2 linked regions of the Homo sapiens genome follow. The protein of the gene in region 2 purifies or fractionates together with the protein of the main gene of each other region. This does not show direct contact. Each region holds a gene or a part of one and is shown on either strand. Other genes may lie near its edges. The genes, in order: SPSB4 and PCDHA6.

The links.
Region 1: the proteins of PCDHA6 (region 2) and SPSB4 purify together in Homo sapiens (co-immunoprecipitation; one large-scale study listed by IntAct). This does not show direct contact.

Annotation. Positions count from the first base shown.
Region 1 is NC_000003.12:141,057,574-141,061,391, reverse strand, and holds part of SPSB4 (SPRY domain-containing SOCS box protein 4), read right to left. Parts: intron 1-3,818. UniProt on the Homo sapiens protein: Substrate recognition component of a SCF-like ECS (Elongin BC-CUL2/5-SOCS-box protein) E3 ubiquitin-protein ligase complex which mediates the ubiquitination and subsequent proteasomal degradation of target proteins.
Region 2 is NC_000005.10:140,834,406-140,838,223, reverse strand, and holds part of PCDHA6 (protocadherin alpha-6 isoform 1 precursor), read right to left. Parts: coding exon of another isoform or gene 1,471-3,818; exon of another isoform or gene 1,051-1,470; intron 1-1,050. Other genes in the region: PCDHA7 (protocadherin alpha-7 isoform 1 precursor), read right to left, coding at 1,486-3,818. UniProt on the Homo sapiens protein: Potential calcium-dependent cell-adhesion protein. May be involved in the establishment and maintenance of specific neuronal connections in the brain.

The sequences.
Region 1 (3,818 bases), on a different chromosome or scaffold from region 2:
AATACAAAAAAAGGACAAAAACTAGAATTCACCTCTTTCTCCTATCTCATTAACCAGATATAAACATTGTCAGCTTTTGGAGGAATTTTGCTTTATTCTCTCTTTTTTTTTGGTCTATAAATTATAATGAATTTTCTTTTTAAAAATTGGTATAATGGGCCTTTATTTAGATTATTTCACCTAAAAATTATGTAATTTGCATTTTCACATATCACTAAATATACTTTAAATGCATAAGTAACTAAATTTTTAAAAACACATAAAACATAAACCATATAATCATTTAATGGGGGAGAAGACAGAAATATGTAAAACAAGAAATGAAAATGGGAAATAACAAAACGGTGTAGCTGAAAGCACTTGTAAAAGAAGTTAGACTTGTTTTAACATAAGAAAAAATTTGCAACACAAATTACCAACAAATATATGTCAAACTCCTACAAATGAATACAAGTACAAAATATGAAAAGATATCAACAGTTTACACAAAAACAAATGGTTCCTTTGAAAAGATACTCAATGTATACTGAAAAAGAAATGAGTTAGAACTCCATTGAAATGCCATTTTTGTCTATCAGCTTATTAAAGGTCAAAAAAATGGATAACGCATGCTTGGAGAATGTGTGGAACAGAAGACAGACTCATACATTGCTAAAGTGGATATAAACTGGTTTAGCCTCGGCAAATGGCAAATTAACACCATCTTTCAGAATTGCAAATATACAGACCCTTTGACCTAGCAATTCTACTTCCAGCATTTATTCAGATATGTTCTCAAATGCACAAAACTACCTATGTACACAGCACATGCATACATACTGCATACATACGCAGCACTCTTTGCAATAGCAGCCCGGGCTCAGAGAGGTTGCATAACTTGCATAACCTGGGGTCACACAGCCAGGAAGTGGCAGGACTGGGATCAACCCCAGAGTTACCATATGACAAGCCTGTGCTCTTACTTCTTCCTCCATGTTGTTTAGAATAATGCCCTCTCCACAGCAATGACTGTAACCAGCTCTGTGTGGCCCACACAGAAAATTTCTAAGGGAAACTGCTTTATCCTTGCACACAACCATGCCAACTGTGGAGTTGCTGTTGCTGAAAAGACACTTAAACATGTTTGAAAGCAACAGCCAAACAGCAGCCCCAGGGAAGACCTCTTACTAGTACTTGGCTTGGCCCATACTGGGTCATTGAGGGCCCAGTGCTCTCCTTTGCAATCATAGTCTCAAAGTCTCTGTCCCTACTAGAGGCAGGCAGAGATCCTGAAGAGTGCTCACACTGTGGTGTGACAAGGTGGGCAAGTAAATAGACAGCCCCTTTGCTGCTCCCCCAGTACAGGGCGCACAGCAGAGTGCTCATGTCCATGAATGATAAGCCGTTAAGGGAAACTAGCAGCTGGGCAATCTAATGAAGGACAGGAGACCTAGATGTGAATCCCCACCTGTCTGTTGGACCCTAGGCCAGAACTTAATCTCTCTGAGACTGGTTGGAAGTGCTGCTAACTATGTGCTAACCTCACCTGCTTTTGCAAGTATCAGAGCAGACACCTGTAAAGTCTGGCACATCACAGGGCTTCCAGTAAGTGGTGAGTGCTCTTTTAAATTGTGGATGTGTTCCAACATTGCCATTTCACCACTTGAATGTGCCTGGCTATGAACTGATTGTGTCCTCCCCAAATTCACATGTTGAAGCCTAATATAGGTTGGATATTTGTCCCTGCTCAAATCTCATGTTGAGTTGTAATCCTCAGTGCTGGAGGTGAGGCCTGGTGGGAGCTGTCTGGGTCATGGGGGTGAGTCTGTCATGGCTTGGTGCTGTCTTAGGGATAGTGACTGAGTTCTGGAGAGATATCTGCTCATTTAAAAGTGTGTGACACCTCCCCACCCCCGCCTCTTGCTCTTGTTTTCACCATGTGACATGCCTTCTCCTCCTTCACCTTCTGCCATGACTGTAAGCTTCCTGAGGCCTCTCTAGAAGCCAAGCAGATGCCAGCACCGTGCTTCCTGTAAAGCCTGCAGAACCGTGAGCCAACTAAACTTCTTTTCATTATAAATTACTCAGTCTTAGGTATTTCTTTATAGCAATGCAAAAATGGCCTAACACAAAGCCCCAGTGTGATAGTATTTGGAGGTGGAGCCTTTGAGAGATAATTAGTCCATGAGGGTGAGCTCCACCTCCTCTAGGAAGCCTGCCCTGATCCAGTAGGCCTCCTGGGGCCTGCCCTGTACCTCTGTCCACCCTTGAGCCAGCCAGGGGGACATCTTTCAGGCCTTACTGATCTGCTTTTTTCTACCTTGAGGGCATTCCTCTGATGGCAGGAAACTTTCACCAGCACTTCTGTGCCCCCAGCCACTGCACTACTCCCTCCATGCAAGACACAAGCCTGGTACTTTGAACATGGGGCAGAACACACATATGGACTGTGGAGAGGTTGTGCTGGGCTTCAGGGAGGGCTCATGCTCTGCTGTTTTTCAGAGGATGAAGCAGAGAAAGGGCCAGGGCTAAAGTCAGGATATGGGGACATGAAGCCCAGTAATGCCACTATCATAGTTGGACTCTCACTCCTGAGCAGCTGACTCTTGGCTGTATCCAGTCTACTCCTTTATTAGCTACTGCTTTGCATCCTTCCCTGCTTCCAACCCTCATTTATTCGTTCAAAAAATGCTTAGTGAACACAGTGCCAGGCACTGTGCAGCTGAGAGCAAGGGACACAGCAGTGGCCAAGTCGGGCTCATCCCTGCCTTCTCTCTCCAGCCAGAGGGAGTGGGCACTTAGCACATTTCTCCTCTCCTCATCTCCACTACAGCATGCAGCACTGGGCCAGGCACATGGGACATACAACAGGATCCATCTTCCTGACAGGAATACCATCATCTCTCAACCCAGTAAGCAGCCAGCATCCTGAAGAACGCCAAAGGATGCCTCCGTCACTTTTCCCCAAAACCAAACTTAATTTCCTACGTCATGCTTGGATGGGGATGCTTAATGACATTATCCAGAAGGATCTGCTCTGGGGCTTCAATCATGGCTGAGCAAGAAAACAAAAACTCTAATTTGCTAATTGCCTTTCCCAGGACCCTAGCAGATGTTCCTACCCGACAGGGAAATGAGGAGACATGAAGTGGCAATGCCACACTGTTTAAGGAACCTCATTAGTTTGAAAAATATGATGCACAGTCTTCAGAGGCCTGGGACCCAAAATCACAGCCACAGAGGCCTGTCTAGCTGAGCTCAATAGGCACGGGGTCTGCAAGAAGACATGACTGCTGTGGGGATTGGTAGTGACTGCGTGAAATGCCCTTCTCTCTGTGTGGCCTCTGGCTTTGGACTTGCTGGAGCCAGAGGTGGGGGCAAGTCTCCTTCTTTCATCTAGCCAGCAGTAATGATGCCTGCCCTGGGGATCTCAGGCTGCTGAAAAGCATAAGACTCAACCACTTTCCCTTAGGGAGACAGCCTACACCAAAGGGGTCAGACTCCACGAGAGATCTGAATAATGACAAAGACTGTAAAAAGAAATCCAGTTAGATACCACTGGAATTCCTTTATAGACTGCATATTACTTTCAAATATATACTACTGCACTTGTAAAAGTACACAGTTGATCTAATCACGCTCCTGCTCAAAATCCTCGACAGGTTCTCTGAGGCTTTCAGGATATTAGATATTAGTGCCTCTGGGGAGCTCCCCAGCCCCCTGTGCTCTCAGAGCCCTTGTACTTGTGCCCACCACAGCTCTTATCACAAGGGGACATGATGTCTCTTTGGCTGCCTCCCTCCCATCGGACTGGGGCAACTTGGGAGCAGGGGCCGGGT
Region 2 (3,818 bases):
GAGAACTGCTTGTACCAGAGAGGCGGATTTTGCAGTGAGCTGAGATTGCACCACTGCACTCCAGAGAGGGCGACAGAGTAAAACTCTGTCAAACACACACACACACACACACACACACACACACACACACACACACACACACACACTATATATATATAACTTAAAGTGGAAAACCAAAAAGTGCAGAAAGGTAGGTTTCTACTGTAATCACTTCTTTTTTTAAAAAAAAGGAAAGATGAAAGGCAGGCTGGGTGTGGTTGTTCGTGTCTGTAATCCCAATACTTTGGGAGGCCAAGGTAGGAGGATCGCTTGAAGCCAGGAGTTCAAGACCAGCCTGGGAAACAAGACTCCACCCTGTCTCTACAAAAATAAAATAAAATTAGCCAGGCACAATGACATGCAAACTGTATTCCCAGCTACTCCAGAGGCTGAGATGGGAGGATCCTGTGAGCCCAGGACTTTCAGGTTGCAGTGGGCTATAATCCCACCACTGCATTTCAGCAGCCTGGGTGATGGAGTGAGAGCGTGTCTTGAAAGAAGAAAGAAAAAAGAAAAAGAATGAAAGAAAAAGGAAGAAAGAAAGAAAGAAAGGAAGGAAGGAAGGAAGGGGCAAATTATAAAATATATATATTGGCGATTTACAATTTGGTGATTGTAAATATATTTATATAATTTGGCAATAATAATCTTGGGAATATACAAAAAAAGTAAACTGCTTCAGAAATTCAGAAAGGTAAAGTAAATGGTTTGGGGTTTGAGGAGGCAAGGAGATTTTTTACTACGTACTAGATTTCACTCTTTGAAATTTTGAATGTGAATATATTTCTTATACAAACAAGGAACAAAATAAAAAATACTATTAAACTGCCATTTAAACTATTTTAAATTGTTCATATTAATTCTTCATGAACATGGCAAATACATCTCAACAAAGTAAGTTAAAAAGAAGTCAGTGCTACACAAATATGATAAAAAGAAGATAAATAGATGTAAAAGAAATGCTTAAAATTCAAGTTCTAGACTAAAGATAAAAAGGCAAAATTGAACAGATGATTTTGACACAGCTATATTTTATAAAATGAGGACAATACATAGAATAAAATATTAGGTAACATATATATTAAATTTGTTTACTATAACATTTATAGGTATTGATTATCAAAATATGGAAATGTAAATATTTGATTTTGTAAATACACTATAGAAGAAAGGTGAATCCATTGCTCCAGTTAGCAAAGTCCTCCTCCAAAAATGGAGAGTAGCCAACATAAACCATAGATTTTGATCTATAGTATTACGCATCCCAAAACAAAAGTGTATATTAAACGTACTTCCAAATAATTAGTGCAAATACAGCATAACATTAAAAAATAATAATTATACATAAAGCTATCAACTAAAAAAGAAATTATGAAAGAAAATTTAAGGAGACCAATTGAACTAATTGTTTTAAAATTGTTGGAAACAAGATTATTTATGACTCACATTGTCTGTAGAGGATGGACCCTGAGGAAGGCTGGGACTGAAGGCCATGAGGTCTGTCTTGGGTGGGCCCTCCCCAGAGCACACCCTCTGCCGCCTCTGCTGGGAGAATGACCAGCTCCCCACCGCGCTGGAGCACACCAGAGTGGGCTTTACCAAACTACATGCGCCCTCAGAGGACGGCGCTGAGCACCGCAACGCCGTGTACAGCAGCAGGGTAAGCACCAACAGACTGGACACCGCGCAGATGGCGATGATCAGGTACACGTTGACATCCACCAGCTCGGTCTCTGGGCCTGCAATGCCCAACGATGCCCGCGACGACGCCTTTGGTGCCTGGCCGCTTTCCACCAGCGACACCAGCACGGTGGCTGTGGCTGTCAGCGAGGGCTCCCCGTGGTCCTTCACAAGCACCAGAAGGCGGTGGCGCGGTGCGTCCGTCTCATCTAGGGCTCGTGTCGTGCTGATCTCACCAGTGTACAGCCCCACGCGGAACGGGATGCTCGCACCGGCCGCCACCGGTTGCAACTCATACGAAAGCCACGCGTTGTAGCCTGAGTCAGCGTCAACTGCACGTACCTTCGCCACCACATGGCCCGCGCCCACAGACCGCGGCACAAGCTCTCTCACTGCGCCACCAGTGCCACCCACCCGAGGCGCCAGCAGTGCCGGCGCGTTGTCGTTCTCGTCCAGCACGAACACCTGCAGCGTCACGTTGCTGCCCAGAGGCGGCACGCCCGCATCGCGCGCGCTCACCTGGAACTGCAACAGCTCCAGCTCCTCGTGGTCCAACGGCTGCAGCGCGTACACCTTGCCGCTCTCCGCGTGCACTGACACGTAGCTCGACAGCGCGCGCTCGCCCACCCGCAGCTCCACCAGCGAGTAGGACACCAGCGCGTTCTTCTGCGCGTCCGCGTCCCCCGCCGACACAGTGAAGATGTGGCAGCCCGGCGGGTTGTTCTCCTTCACGAACACCGTATACTCGGGCTGCGCGAACGCCGGGGCGTTGTCGTTCACGTCGGCCACCTCCACGGACACGCTAGCAGTGGCCCACAGAGAAGGCGAGCCCCCGTCCCGCGCGGTAACCACCAGCTCATAGGCGGACACACTCTCGCGGTCCAGAGCGCTGTCCAGCACCAATGAATAGTAATTCTTGAAGGTGGACACCAACTTGAAGGGAACGCGGGGCGTCAGGGAGCAGGTAACCTGTCCGTTGACTCCAAAATCTCGGTCAAACACGCTAATCAATGTGATGACGGTACCTGGTTGGGCGTCCTCTGGAATAGGGAGAGACAGGGAAGTGAGAGTCAACTGTGGAGCATTGTCATTTACATCCACAACTTCCACAAGAACTGTACAATGACCAGCCAGGGGTGGGAAGCCTTTATCGACAGCCTCGACTGGGATCTTGTGTGCTCTACTTTCTTCAAAATCCATATGTCCTATCACTGTGATTGCCCCACTTAAGGGGTCCATGTGGAACTTGGATTTTATATCTGGAGAAACATCACTGGAGAAGGAGTAAATAATATCCCCATTCAAGCCTTCGTCTAAATCTGAGGCATTGGGGTGAATCACCAGCGTTCCGATAGAAACGTTTTCTGGTAATTTCACCGTATACAGGGTTCTGTCGAACACTGGGGCATTGTCATTGTTGTCCAGTACCGTGATGAGTAATTGAACGGTGCCAGTCAGCTCGGGTTTGCCTCCATCGGTGGCCGTGAGCAATAAATGAAGCTCCGGAGTTTCTTCTCTGTCTAAAAGTTTCCGTAATACAAGTCCAAGAGGTTTTACCTGCTGGTTGCTGGTTGGCACGTCCAGGAAGAAATACTCATTGGGGCTCAGTCTGTAAGTGAGCAGGGCGTTCTCCCCGATATCTGCATCGGACGCGCCCTCTAGTGGAAACCGAGAGTCAAGCGGCCTGGATTCCGCGATGAACAGATTCCTTTGTGTCGCTGGGAACACCGGAGGGTTGTCGTTAATGTCCTTCACCTCCACGTCCACATGGAAAACCTGCAGCGGCCTTTCCACGATCACCTCCAGGTGGATGCTGCACTCCGCGCTCCGCCCGCACAGCTCCTCGCGGTCGATCCGAGAATTCACAAACAAAATGCCATTCTGCAGATTTACCTCCAGAAGATCCCCACGGAATTTGCACACCGCCCGGAACAGGCGCGGCACCAGCTCCGCCAGCTCCAGCCCCAGGTCCTGCGCGATGCGGCCCACGAAGTTGCCATGTTTAGCCTCCTCGGGGACCGAGTAGTGGAGCTGGCCTCTCCCTGCCTCCCAAGCTGCTAGAATTATAATAAACAGCAGTAGATGTCGGCCCCCTGGGT